2 separate regions of the Homo sapiens genome follow, and region 1 is linked to region 2. Evidence: fine-mapped expression QTL. A gene starts in region 2. The other region holds a variant in brackets. All regions are shown on one strand. Distances are between the middles of the regions. Region 1 overlaps SIVA1 (SIVA1 apoptosis inducing factor). Region 2 holds the start of ADSS1 (adenylosuccinate synthase 1).

Evidence for each region. PIP is the estimated chance that this variant, and not a neighbour inherited with it, causes the effect.
Region 1: its variant is the best candidate, but not a certain one, in a credible set for the expression of ADSS1 in sun-exposed skin (GTEx, PIP 0.59).

Annotation. Positions count from the first base shown.
Region 1 is chr14:104,755,075-104,760,436 of GRCh38, forward strand. It overlaps SIVA1 (SIVA1 apoptosis inducing factor), which reads left to right. Exons shown (of 4, transcript NM_006427.4): 2 at 556-750; 3 at 1,530-1,686; 4 at 4,354-4,580. The coding sequence ends at 4,411. LOC107987209 (a long non-coding RNA gene) reads right to left here. Exons shown (of 3, transcript XR_001750915.3): 2 at 1,332-2,346. Among named protein-coding and RNA genes, the nearest start is that of SIVA1, 4.6 kb to the left of the region's middle. RefSeq lists enhancers at 4,321-5,269, 5,270-5,362. The variant T/C (reference allele first, on the strand shown) is at 2,114.
Region 2 is chr14:104,720,975-104,726,295 of GRCh38, forward strand. ADSS1 (adenylosuccinate synthase 1) reads left to right here and starts at 3,255. Exons shown (of 13, transcript NM_152328.5): 1 at 3,255-3,488. The coding sequence starts at 3,297. It overlaps INF2 (inverted formin 2), which reads left to right. Exons shown (of 23, transcript NM_022489.4): 23 at 1-1,561. RefSeq lists enhancers at 1,006-1,505, 4,302-5,002 and a silencer at 3,062-3,471.

The DNA of each region.
Region 1 (5,362 bases), 34 kb after region 2:
GTTCTGGGATGCTTGTCTTGCCAGCAACTCTGTAGCAGGTGAAGGGGGTGTGCTCTGGCCAGAGGCTGTAGGCCCAGCTCCAAGCCTCTGGCTGCTTCCTTGGCAGGGGACGAGTTTTGTGAATTAGTGCTCCACAGTGCAGAGCTCCCTCTGTGCATTCCACAGAGCCTGGTTTCCAGGTGGGGAGTGCTGGGGAAGCAGAAAAGGGAGAAAGGGGACAAGCTTAGTGAGGCGAGGCCAGCCGTGAATTGCAGAAAATGAGCCGAGTGATAGGAGAGGGAACCCTTGCATCAGACACAGGTGGGGCTGCAGGGCCAGAGCCTTCCTGGAGGAGATGACAGCTAAGCCAGGTAAGGAAAGGACGCACAAGCATTCTCAGCATAGAGGCAGAGCAGGACCCAGCTCGCCAGGGCACAACACAGGCTGGGGTTACTGGGAGACAGAGGGCACACAGGAGGACGATGGGGTTCATGTGAGGCTAGAAAGACTCAATGGCCATGCAGGGGCTTCGTTGGTACACAGTGAAGGACGTGAGAATGATTTATCTTCCCCCAGAGAAGACCAAGCGACTCCTGTTCCTCGGGGCCCAGGCCTACCTGGACCACGTGTGGGATGAAGGCTGTGCCGTCGTTCACCTGCCAGAGTCCCCAAAGCCTGGCCCTACAGGGGCCCCGAGGGCTGCACGTGGGCAGATGCTGATTGGACCAGACGGCCGCCTGATCAGGAGCCTTGGGCAGGCCTCCGAAGCTGGTGAGTGGCACCAGCAGCCCTTTGTGGCTGTGGCACTGAGGGCAGGTGGTGGCACGAGCATTTTTCTTGATTTGCAAGGTCAGGCTTTTCCTCCCTGGGTAAGCAGGACTCTGACCCAGAGCTTGGCCTTCTGGCTCAGAAGGCTCCTGTTATCAGGAGGTCTCACATTCAAGACTGGAAGTTGTTAAACAGCTTCTAAGTACTGGGCCAAAAAAGCAGCAGAGACTCCCCGGGTATCCCGTCTGCTTTCCGCCTGCAGCCCCCTCAGATAGTCCCACAAGGCTGGAAACATGCCAGTCCCATCCCTATGCAGTGTGGGGTCTCAGAGCATCACCTGTGTTGCTGGTTAGAAATGCAATCCCCGACTCTACCTCAAGTCTGGTTGGTGTGTCTAGGAGGAGCCCAGGCACCTCTTTGTTAACCAGTAAGGCAGTGGGCCACACTGAGACCCAGATGGGACACATGGAGTTCTGACAAGCAACAGGGGAAGAATGGTCCTTCCAGCACTAGCCTCCAGGTAGCAGAGGGACCTGGTAAGGGAAAGAGCACTGAACTTGGAGTCAACTACAGGCATATCTCACCTTGGATCTCTGTAGTAAAACGGGGGTCCTGTGCACTGTACCAGGCTCACGGGTTGTCAGAAGGATCCAGTGTAGGTGGGGATGGGGTAGGCAGGTCAGAGCCCTCTGCCCTCAGGTATGCATGGAGGCAGGTAGCCCGGCAGTCCCGGAAACTCCAGTCTCCTTGCAGCCTGACGGCTTGGCGTTTCTTCCTCACAGACCCATCTGGGGTAGCGTCCATTGCCTGTTCCTCATGCGTGCGAGCCGTGGATGGGAAGGCGGTCTGCGGTCAGTGTGAGCGAGCCCTGTGCGGGCAGTGTGTGCGCACCTGCTGGGGCTGCGGCTCCGTGGCCTGTACCCTGTGTGGCCTCGTGGAGTAAGTACTTCAGTCCCTGGAGCTGCTGAGATCCCATAGCCCCAGCAAGCCGTGATGGGGGACGGGTGGGTCACCCATGTGGGCCCAGAACACACACGTGTGGCCCCTGATGCAGTGCCATCTGGCATTGCCTAACGGGACATGGTGGCAATAGATGCTTGGCCCAACTTTAGTGGTTAGTAATCCTCTCTAAGGGAAAGCTGAACCTCACAGATGACCTGCTCTGTATCCGGCTCTAGTCCCTGTCTTCAGCCACTTCCTGTTCTGATCTTTGAGCACCCCCACCTCCTCCTCCTCTGGTCTTTGAGCCCCCCCTCCCCCCGTCCGAGGAGCCCCTGGTTGGTGACACAGGTGCACACCGCAGCTTCACCACAGTCATGCGTGCCGTTTGGTTGTAGACCCTCTCAGGCAGGAAGTGGAGTGTTTG[T/C]GTAGTCTCCCATTTGTGGGTGGGTTTGCTGCAGCTGGCTGGATCCCGTCCTTACTCCTAAGGTGGGGAGGGGCGTTCTCACCCTAGGGGCTACTCACCTGGTGGATGGGAGTGGACAGTGTGGAGCCTGTTTGCCCTGCCCCGTGAGAAAGATGACTTCATCCAGACACATGTGGAACTGGCTCCATAGACCCAAAGCAAGCTTAGTCCAAACAATGTCTGAAATTGTCCATCTAAAATAGAAACCACATGTTACATCTCGAGTCCTTTCTCTCGAGCCTTTCTTCAGTCGGGGCAGAGGCCCAGACTCATTGGAGACGGAGAGCCCTGGGCAGGGGGGGCAGCACCAGGGAGAAGCGCCGCGTGCCAGTGATCGGCTCCCATGGCTTCAGCATGGGCAGGAGTGGGGTAACGCACCCCATCCAGGTTGGGAATCATCTGCAGGGCTAGCTATGAATGTGGGATACTCTGTCTTTGCTTTTCACCCGCTGAGTTCATCTTCTTTCCTAGAAGTAAACTGAAAAGGGCAGGGTTTTCTCATTGTCTGGTGGCCCTCTCACCAAAGCAGAAGTGAACATAGCCATGGGCAGGTTCAGCGGAGAGGTGGGTCCCAGAGCGCTGCGTGGCTGGCCTCCCACTCCTGCCCTGCACACCATCCTTGAGGGACTCCCTTGCGCCCATTTCCTCCTGGCCTCTACCTACTTTCTGCTGCTGCTTCCTCCCATACCCACAGAGTTCACGTTGAGCTGAGTGGGCCACTGTCCCCACTGTGGACACACTCTTTTATCGCAGCTACAGCACAGGAGGTGGGCTCTGCCCTCTTTCACAAATAAATGACTTGTTCCAGGTCACAAGCCAGAAGTGGCATTCCCAGGCCAGGCAGCCCAGCTGGTGGCACCCGCAGTCTCCTACCCCCTCCCCTGCCATTTCCTACTTCAGGACCAGGCGTCGCAGGAGTGGGGGAAAACAGGGATCTGTCCACACGGCTCTGGTTTAACACAGATGCAGCCCAGCAGCCTTTGGCGTCCTGCTGATGGCCTGCACTGGCCCACGCCTGGCCCGTCCTCTGCAGGGCTCTCCAGCTGGCTGCCGGTGGCGGTGAGGGGCTGTCTTCGCGGCTCACCCACAATACTACTGGCAAACTCTGCAAACCAAGTGGCAAGCAGTTCTGGCTGCCTTGTTGACTCCACGGCCCTGTCGTGTTTGGGGTAGCCATTGCCAGTCCCGTTTCCTCGCAACATCTCTCTTAATCACTTTCTCCCTGTGTTTTGCCGGGTTCCCTAGCCTTTACCTTTAGAGCTTTCTTTTTTTTTTTTTTTTGAGACGGAGTCTCGCTCTGTCACCCAGGCTGGAGTGCAGTGGTGCGATCTTGGCTCACTGCAACTTCCACCTCCTGTGTTCAAGCAATTTTCCTGTCTCAGCCTCCCAAGTAGCTGGAGTTACAGGCGTGCGCTAGCACGCCCAGCTAATTTTTGTATTCTTAGTAGAGACAGAGTTTCACCATGTTGGCCAGGCTGGTCTCGAACTCCTGACCTCAGGTGATCCTCCGGCCTCAGCCTCCCAAAGTGCTGAGGTAAGCCACACCATACGCGTGAGCCACCATGCCCGGCCCTACCCTTAGTCTTGATATATCAGAAAAGCACTGTTTGATGTGCTTCAGTGTAAACCATTGTGGTTCGGTGAATTCTGGCAGGTCATCTGGAGGTTTCTTTGGAGAGCTTCTATCCTACTGGAAACCCAGGTTGGGCCCCATGTGGATTGATCGGCAGTGGGAATCAGCTAGGGCTGCTGTAACTGAGTTCGCAGACCCAGTGGCATAGACAGCAAAGAGGTACTGCCACGTGGCTTTGGAGACCAGAAGTCTGAGAGGAAGGTGCTGGCAGGGCTGGTTCCTTCTGAGGCTGCAATGGAAAACCTGTCCTGGCCTCTCTCCTGGCATCTGCTGGTTATCTTTGGTGTTCCCTGTAGACAGCTGCCCCCTCCCTGTATCTTCATGTCGTCTTCCTTCTCTGTGTCCTTCTCTTCACGTAGTCTTTTTAGGACGCTGGTCGTGTTGCCTTAGGGCCCCCATGTCAGTGCCGTCATCTAGACTGATGATGCCCGCAGTGATCCTGTCTCCAGATAAGGTCATGTCCTGAGGTGTTCTGGGTTAGGACTTTGACGTTTGAATGGTGGGGGGTGGTGGACACAATTCAGCCCCTGACAGCAGCTTTTCTCTCCCCTCCCTGACGCTGTCGCAGCTGCAGTGACATGTACGAGAAAGTGCTGTGCACCAGCTGTGCCATGTTCGAGACCTGAGGCTGGCTCAAGCCGGCTGCCTTCACCGGGAGCCACGCCGTGCATGGCAGCCTTCCCTGGACGAGCGCTCGGTGTTCACACTGAACTGTGGGGTCGACGGGAGGGGTGCCTTTTACATGTTCTATTTTGTATCCTAATGACAGAATGAATAAACCTCTTTATATTTGCACAAGAGGACTCTTGTCTGTCAGCACTTCTGAGGGTGGAGTTTGTGACCCTCCACCTGGGAGGGCCAAAGGAGCAGTCAGTGGGCGGGGCCTGCTGCACCTGCTGTCTACCCGCCAGCTCCTAGAGACCCCACTGTGCATTGTGTGAGGCCCCTTACTCGCCCCCTGCTACAGGTGGGAAGGCTCAGCCCAGAGCACGCTCCTCCCCAGCTCGCCCAGCTGGTAAATGGGGAGAAAGGACCCAGGTCTGGCTCCAGGGTACACAACCAGTGTACTAGACCTTCACGGAGAGAGGTGATACTCGCGCCCCATCCCCAGACGCCACTGTCATGCACGCCTGATCCATCACATCTTGGTGTCCACTTTACTTTTTTGGTGCCTGTATGGTCAGGCCCCGTGTGATTGATAGGCCCCTGCCCTCCAGGAGCTTTGCTCTAGCAGGGGAGATGGGCCCAGCTGTGCTCCCTCTGGAGTCGGTGTAGCTTGTGTGGGGCCTTGAAGGAAGAGGAGTTGACAGGAGAGGAGGCGGGGTGGCCTGGAGGACAGAAGAGGGCAGGCTGCTTGAGTGCTGGTCCCCACACAAGTCGACTGAGGCGGGTCCCAGCCCCTCCAGGGATGAGTGAGCAGTTGAGCCACAGCCCCTCTGAGAAGCTCTGGACTAGAGTAAAGGTTGTTTGGGGCAGAGGGTGGGTGGGAGCATGTGCTGGGGACAGTTGAGAAGAGCCTTTGCTGTTCCTGGGAAGCTGTTAGAAGAGCAAATTATGCTGATTCTTAGAGAAAAGTC
Region 2 (5,321 bases):
TGCTGTGGACGTCTGCGTCGTCCTCCTGTGGATGCTGCTGTGGACGTCTGCGTCGTCCTCGTGTGGATGCTGCTGTGGACGTCTGCGTAGTCTCGTGTGGATGCTGCTGTGGACGTCTGCGTAGTCTCGTGTGGATGCTGCTGTGGACGTCTGCGTCGTCCTCGATGCTGCTGTGGACGTCTGCGTCGTCCTCGTGTGGATGCTGCTATGGACGTCTGCGTAGTCTCGTGTGGATGCTGCTGTGGACGTCTGCGTCGTCCTCGTGTGGATGCTGCTGTGGACGTCTGCGTAGTCTCGTGTGGATGCTGCTGTGGACGTCTGCGTAGTCTCGTGTGGATGCTGCTGTGGACGTCTGCGTCGTCCTCGTGTGGATGCTGCTGTGGACGTCTGCGTAGTCTCGTGTGGATGCTGCTGTGGACGTCTGCGTCGTCCTCGTGTGGATGCTGCTGTGGACGTCTGTGTAGTCTCATGTGGATGCTGCGAGTTTTCGTTGCTCTGGGGTAGATTCGTAGCGGAGGAACAACTGGGCGACACGCTAAGTTTATGTTTAACTTTTTAAGTAACTGCCTAACTGTTTTCCAAAGCAGCTGCACCATTTTTCATTCCCATCCATGCTATTGTTTTTCAGTTAAATAGCTCCACTCCTCCCCCTCCCCACCCTCCACAGAACTGCCAGTAAAACTGGACTATGGAGTATTGGGTGGGGTCACCTACAAGGTCATCTGCAGCAAGTGAGACCATCGCCCCTCCTGCCTGGAGAGGTGGGACTGGGGACCCTGTGACAGGAGGAGCTGCCCTTCCTGGAGCCTGGTTTTTCTTTTTCCTCTGTGCTCCATGAGAAGTCAGTTTAGTGGGCTACAGCCAGCAAAGGAACCAAAACCAACAGGAGCTCTGGGGGTGCCTTGCATGGCGAGGCTCCGTGGCTGCACGCGTGTATGCAGGTGGCTGTGGGTGTCTGTGTGTCCTGGGCCACTGTGTGCGATGGTCCCACTGGGAGGTGTGGCCCCCAAAGAGTGGAACCCACAGGTGGACACACCCATGCACCCTCGTTCTTGCCCAAGGTCACACATCGAGACAGCAGGGCCCAGATGGATGGCCCCAAGCTCGGTGGCTCCCGTGCTGCCCACACCTGGGGACAGGCCCACTGTGGGGGGTAAGGGGTGGAGGTGTTCTAATTCGGGCTGAGCCGTGTGACTGGCAGGGGCCCCAGCTGTTGGGCCTGGGCAGGACTGTTTTTAGAAAAGCCCCAACTCCCTGCCCCTACCCGGGCCCGTGGCTATTTATAGTCCGGGCCTGGAGAAGTCAGTGAGTCACTAGCGTTCGCCTCTGCAGGGTCAGTCCAAGCCCCCTTAGTGAGGTGGTCTAGCATGTCCCCCAGTCCCCCAAGCCTCTATCTGACATCTGCTAGCCCAGAGCCCCAGGGGTCCCCAGGAAGGGCTCAGAGCTGGTGGCCCCCCCCAGGCCTTGGCAGCACCTCCTTGTCTGATGGGACTTTGTGGTTCCTGGTGGACATTTAACATTGTCGGTTTCTCTCATCTGGAAACAAACCTCCATGACGCTCTTGGTTTCTCCTGTTGCAGTCTGCCTCTTCCCTACCTGCACAGCTCTCTGCTGTGCCCCAAATTCCCTCCTTGACACCCCCAGACCCACTGCCCCACCCTCAGGTGCAGCCCCTTCTCAGCAGGCTCCAGGTTCTGCCAAATCTCAGAGCCCTCCAACCCTGCTCCAGCCCCTTCCCAAGCTGGGGCCGGTGGTCTGTTCACCCCCGACCAGCTGTCACCCCCAAGGTGGCACTAGGAAGTTCATGCATGAAGACTGCTTTTCCACTGAGGCCCCACTGACTGCTTGGAACCCATACAACGGCATTTTCCCCGCAAGGATGCTGAGGGAGAGGAAGTGTCGATGTGCCCAGTGGAAGAAGAGGGGACTGGGGACATGGGTGCAGGGGGCAGGAGGCCAGGCTTCAAACAGCCCCTCTCCCCCAGGCTGGGGCACGGTCAGGTGCCAAGAGAGGAGGGGTGGGGAGGCTGCAGGCAGGGGTGGGCAGTGGTGTCCTTGGCTGCACCTGAATCACTAACTCAGTGTGAGCGACCTTTGCTGTGACAGGCCCAAGCTCCACTCCTTCCTCACAGGGAGTGTCCCGTCTCCATGGACTCCCTGTCACTAGCCTTGGAGTTGCCCTGAGCCCAAGGGGCCTCGTGGCTCCAGGCTCTTTGGCAACTGAGAGCCGTCAGGGAGGGAACAAAGGACCCCGCCTCCCTGCTCTGAAGCAAGAACCTGATTCTCTTTTCCGCCCTTGGGGCCCCAGGACCCTTCTCTTGGCCACCAGGGCTGGCTTCCTCCAAGCCTCATCTACTTGGGAGGGGTGGGGCGGGATGGGTGAGACAGGACAACCAGCCGGGAACACGGGAGCCTCGCAGACCATCGCCTCCCTCTGGGGCCTAGTCCCTCCACAGGCTGGGCCGGGAAGGTCTGGTGTGGGACCTCTTGGGAACCTGGGCCCCACGGTGGCGTGCATCCCTGGGGGTTGCTCCCATGCCAGCCAGGTGACGCTGACAGGATGGGTCCCTTTACCCCAGACTTGGGTGCTGAGGGCCGGAGCTCCATGCTGGAGCCCGCCTGCTCGCTACAGCCAGGCCCGAGCCACAGCGCGCCCGGGCGGGACGCGGGGCCCCTGCCGTGGGGCAGAAGTGCGGGCAGTTGCGGGGACACAAAGTCCTCGGAGAGGACGCGCTGCGCGGCTCTTCGCGGCCGCCAGGGGGCGCGCCCGCGCCCAGGGCACTCGGGGTTCCACGGGGGGCAGGTGCGCTCCTCGAGAGTGCGGACCCTCTAGGTGGGGTGCAGGACGCAGCTCCCCTTTTGCAAACCGCACTCCTTCCCTGGAGGGAACGACCACCCCTGCAGTTGCTGGAACCCCGAAGTCCTGGGCCCGGCAAGGGCTTGGTGGGGGGTGAGGTCGCGGTGCACAAGCCCTGGTCCCCGACGGGCTAGCGAGAAACTGCCTCCGTTGGCAAATTCGTGGGGGCGGCTCCCCAGGCCATCTGCCTGCCTGGCCGTTGGTCCGTGCGGCCCCTCACCCCTAAAGTGCTCGAGACTCAACTGGGCTTCCCGGGCAGCGGCGAGGGGGCGGGGATGTGGCGGCCGGAGGTCACCGGGGCGTCACTGCGCCCGCCCTGGCCCTCCCCCGGCCCGCCCCCTGCCCCGCCCCCTGCCCCGGCCCGGCTCCATTTAATGGCGCGGACGCCGGCGGCGGCGGGCTCCTGGCCGGGCCAGCGCAGCGGAAGAGCCAAGCCAGCATGTCGGGGACCCGAGCCTCCAACGACCGGCCCCCCGGCGCAGGCGGCGTCAAGCGGGGGCGGCTGCAGCAGGAGGCGGCGGCGACCGGCTCCCGCGTGACGGTGGTGCTGGGCGCGCAGTGGGGGGACGAGGGCAAAGGCAAGGTGGTGGACCTGCTGGCCACGGACGCCGACATCATCAGCCGCTGCCAGGTGCGGGCTGGGGCGCCGGGTCCCTCCCCCACCGCCCAGCGAGCCCCCCTCCCCCGACCCAGACGGCCCCTGTCCTCCCATGCCCTGGCCGGTCACTCACCCGCTTGGATGCCTTCCTTCCGGGAGCACCTTTCCCAGGGCCACCCCACCCACGCACGCACACGCACCACTCACACAACCCCCGACCCACACACACCGCCCTCCTTCCACCCACCCCTACTCCACCACCCCGGCAGCGGGCCAGGGCACAGCTATAAATACAAGTCGCTGAGTTGGGGACACCCGATCCTTAGGGGGTGGCGCATGCCATGGGTGTGACGCTGGACCCTCCATGGGGGAACCAGAGGACCCAGCCCCAGGATGGTTTGAGGACCCCCAAGACACCCCCCTTCCTCATTTACAGTGATCACCTGGGGCCTGTCTGGGTCTGGGATAGGGCTTACCTGGCTCCCCGCAAGGTCTGCAGGTGGTGGAGGGGGTAAAAGCTGCCTGCTGGGTGGGGGTGACCCCGGTGAGTCAGCCAAGGAGAGGCAGAGGTGGAAGGGGGCCAGGCCGTCCTGGGGGGCAATTGGGGCCGCGCCTGAGGGAGGGTGCTTGGGACGATCCTAGCCAGACATGGGAGAGGGAGGGCCACAGACTTCTGGCCAGGGTGACCCCGTGGCTGGCAGTGCCACCGAGGAGGCCAGACCTGCTTTGTCCCCCAGGGCCCAGGGCTGGGCCTCTGCCAGCCGGCAGCTGCTCTCAGCGCCCCCATCTGTTCTGACTGAGCTGCACACTGGGCACTCTCTCGGGCCGCCACCCTGGGGCTACATGCCCCATGCCAGGGCAGCCAAGTCTGCTGCCCATGGGCTGACTTACAGCTCCAGGCACAAAGGGGTCAACTTTGGGATGCACGCGTCTGGGGTTTGGAGCCTGCCTGGGGCTGCTGCCAATAATGGAACAAGGGCCCCCGCACCGTCCCTTCTCCGGGTTCTGTGGCCTCCTTCCTGAGCTCCAGAGAGGAGGGCTGGGGCCCAAGACGAAGGGAGTCAGCCCAGCACCCTGTGTGGCTCAGGGCTGTCCGAGCCCCTCCTGCCGGAAGGGACTGTGGCTTCCTAGAAAGTTCTTCCTGGAACAGTGGGGGACCTCCCCCCTTGCTCTCCGTCCTAAGCAGCAGGCAAGCACATCCCTCGCTCCAGAGATCCCCCAGGTCCTAGAGGTGGTCCTCAGCCCATGCTCCCTCCACACTGCCTCTGCCCCGCCACCTTGTCCTGGGCCGCCAGGGGGCATGTCCAGCGCTCTACTGCTCTTCACCCTCCAGGGCGCCCTCAGCGTGGGGCAGCCCCGGCCCCTGACCCTCCTTAGACCTCTCTGCTCCCGTGAGGCCCAGGCCCCTCCCTATGAGCTGCCAGCTCTGGTGGGCGCCATGCACTTCTGCAGGGCGGGCTGGGGCCCCCACAGGTGCTGTACACAGCATTCACCTGGCTCCGCGCTCCCAGCTGTGGAGATGGTTCTGGATCTGGGCACTCCCTGCTGTGCCCCCCACCCAGTCCCCCCACAGCCCCGCTCACTCGCAGCTGCACACGGGAGCACGGAGGATGCAGCAGGCTGGAGCCCATCCCGCACTCCGGCCACCAGGCTGCCCCCGCCAGGCCACCCCCACCAGGCCACCCTATAGCCTGAGGGAGCCCCTGGCTCTCCAAGTGAGTGGGAATAAAAGAGGTTTGTCCCTGGAGCCCACACCTGTCCCCCTGCAGCCTCCTCACGAGCCAGTGAGGCAGGATCATCCTGAAGAGCTCCTTCACAGGGGAACAGAGGCTCAGGCGTGGAGGAATGAGTCACTGCCACATTTGG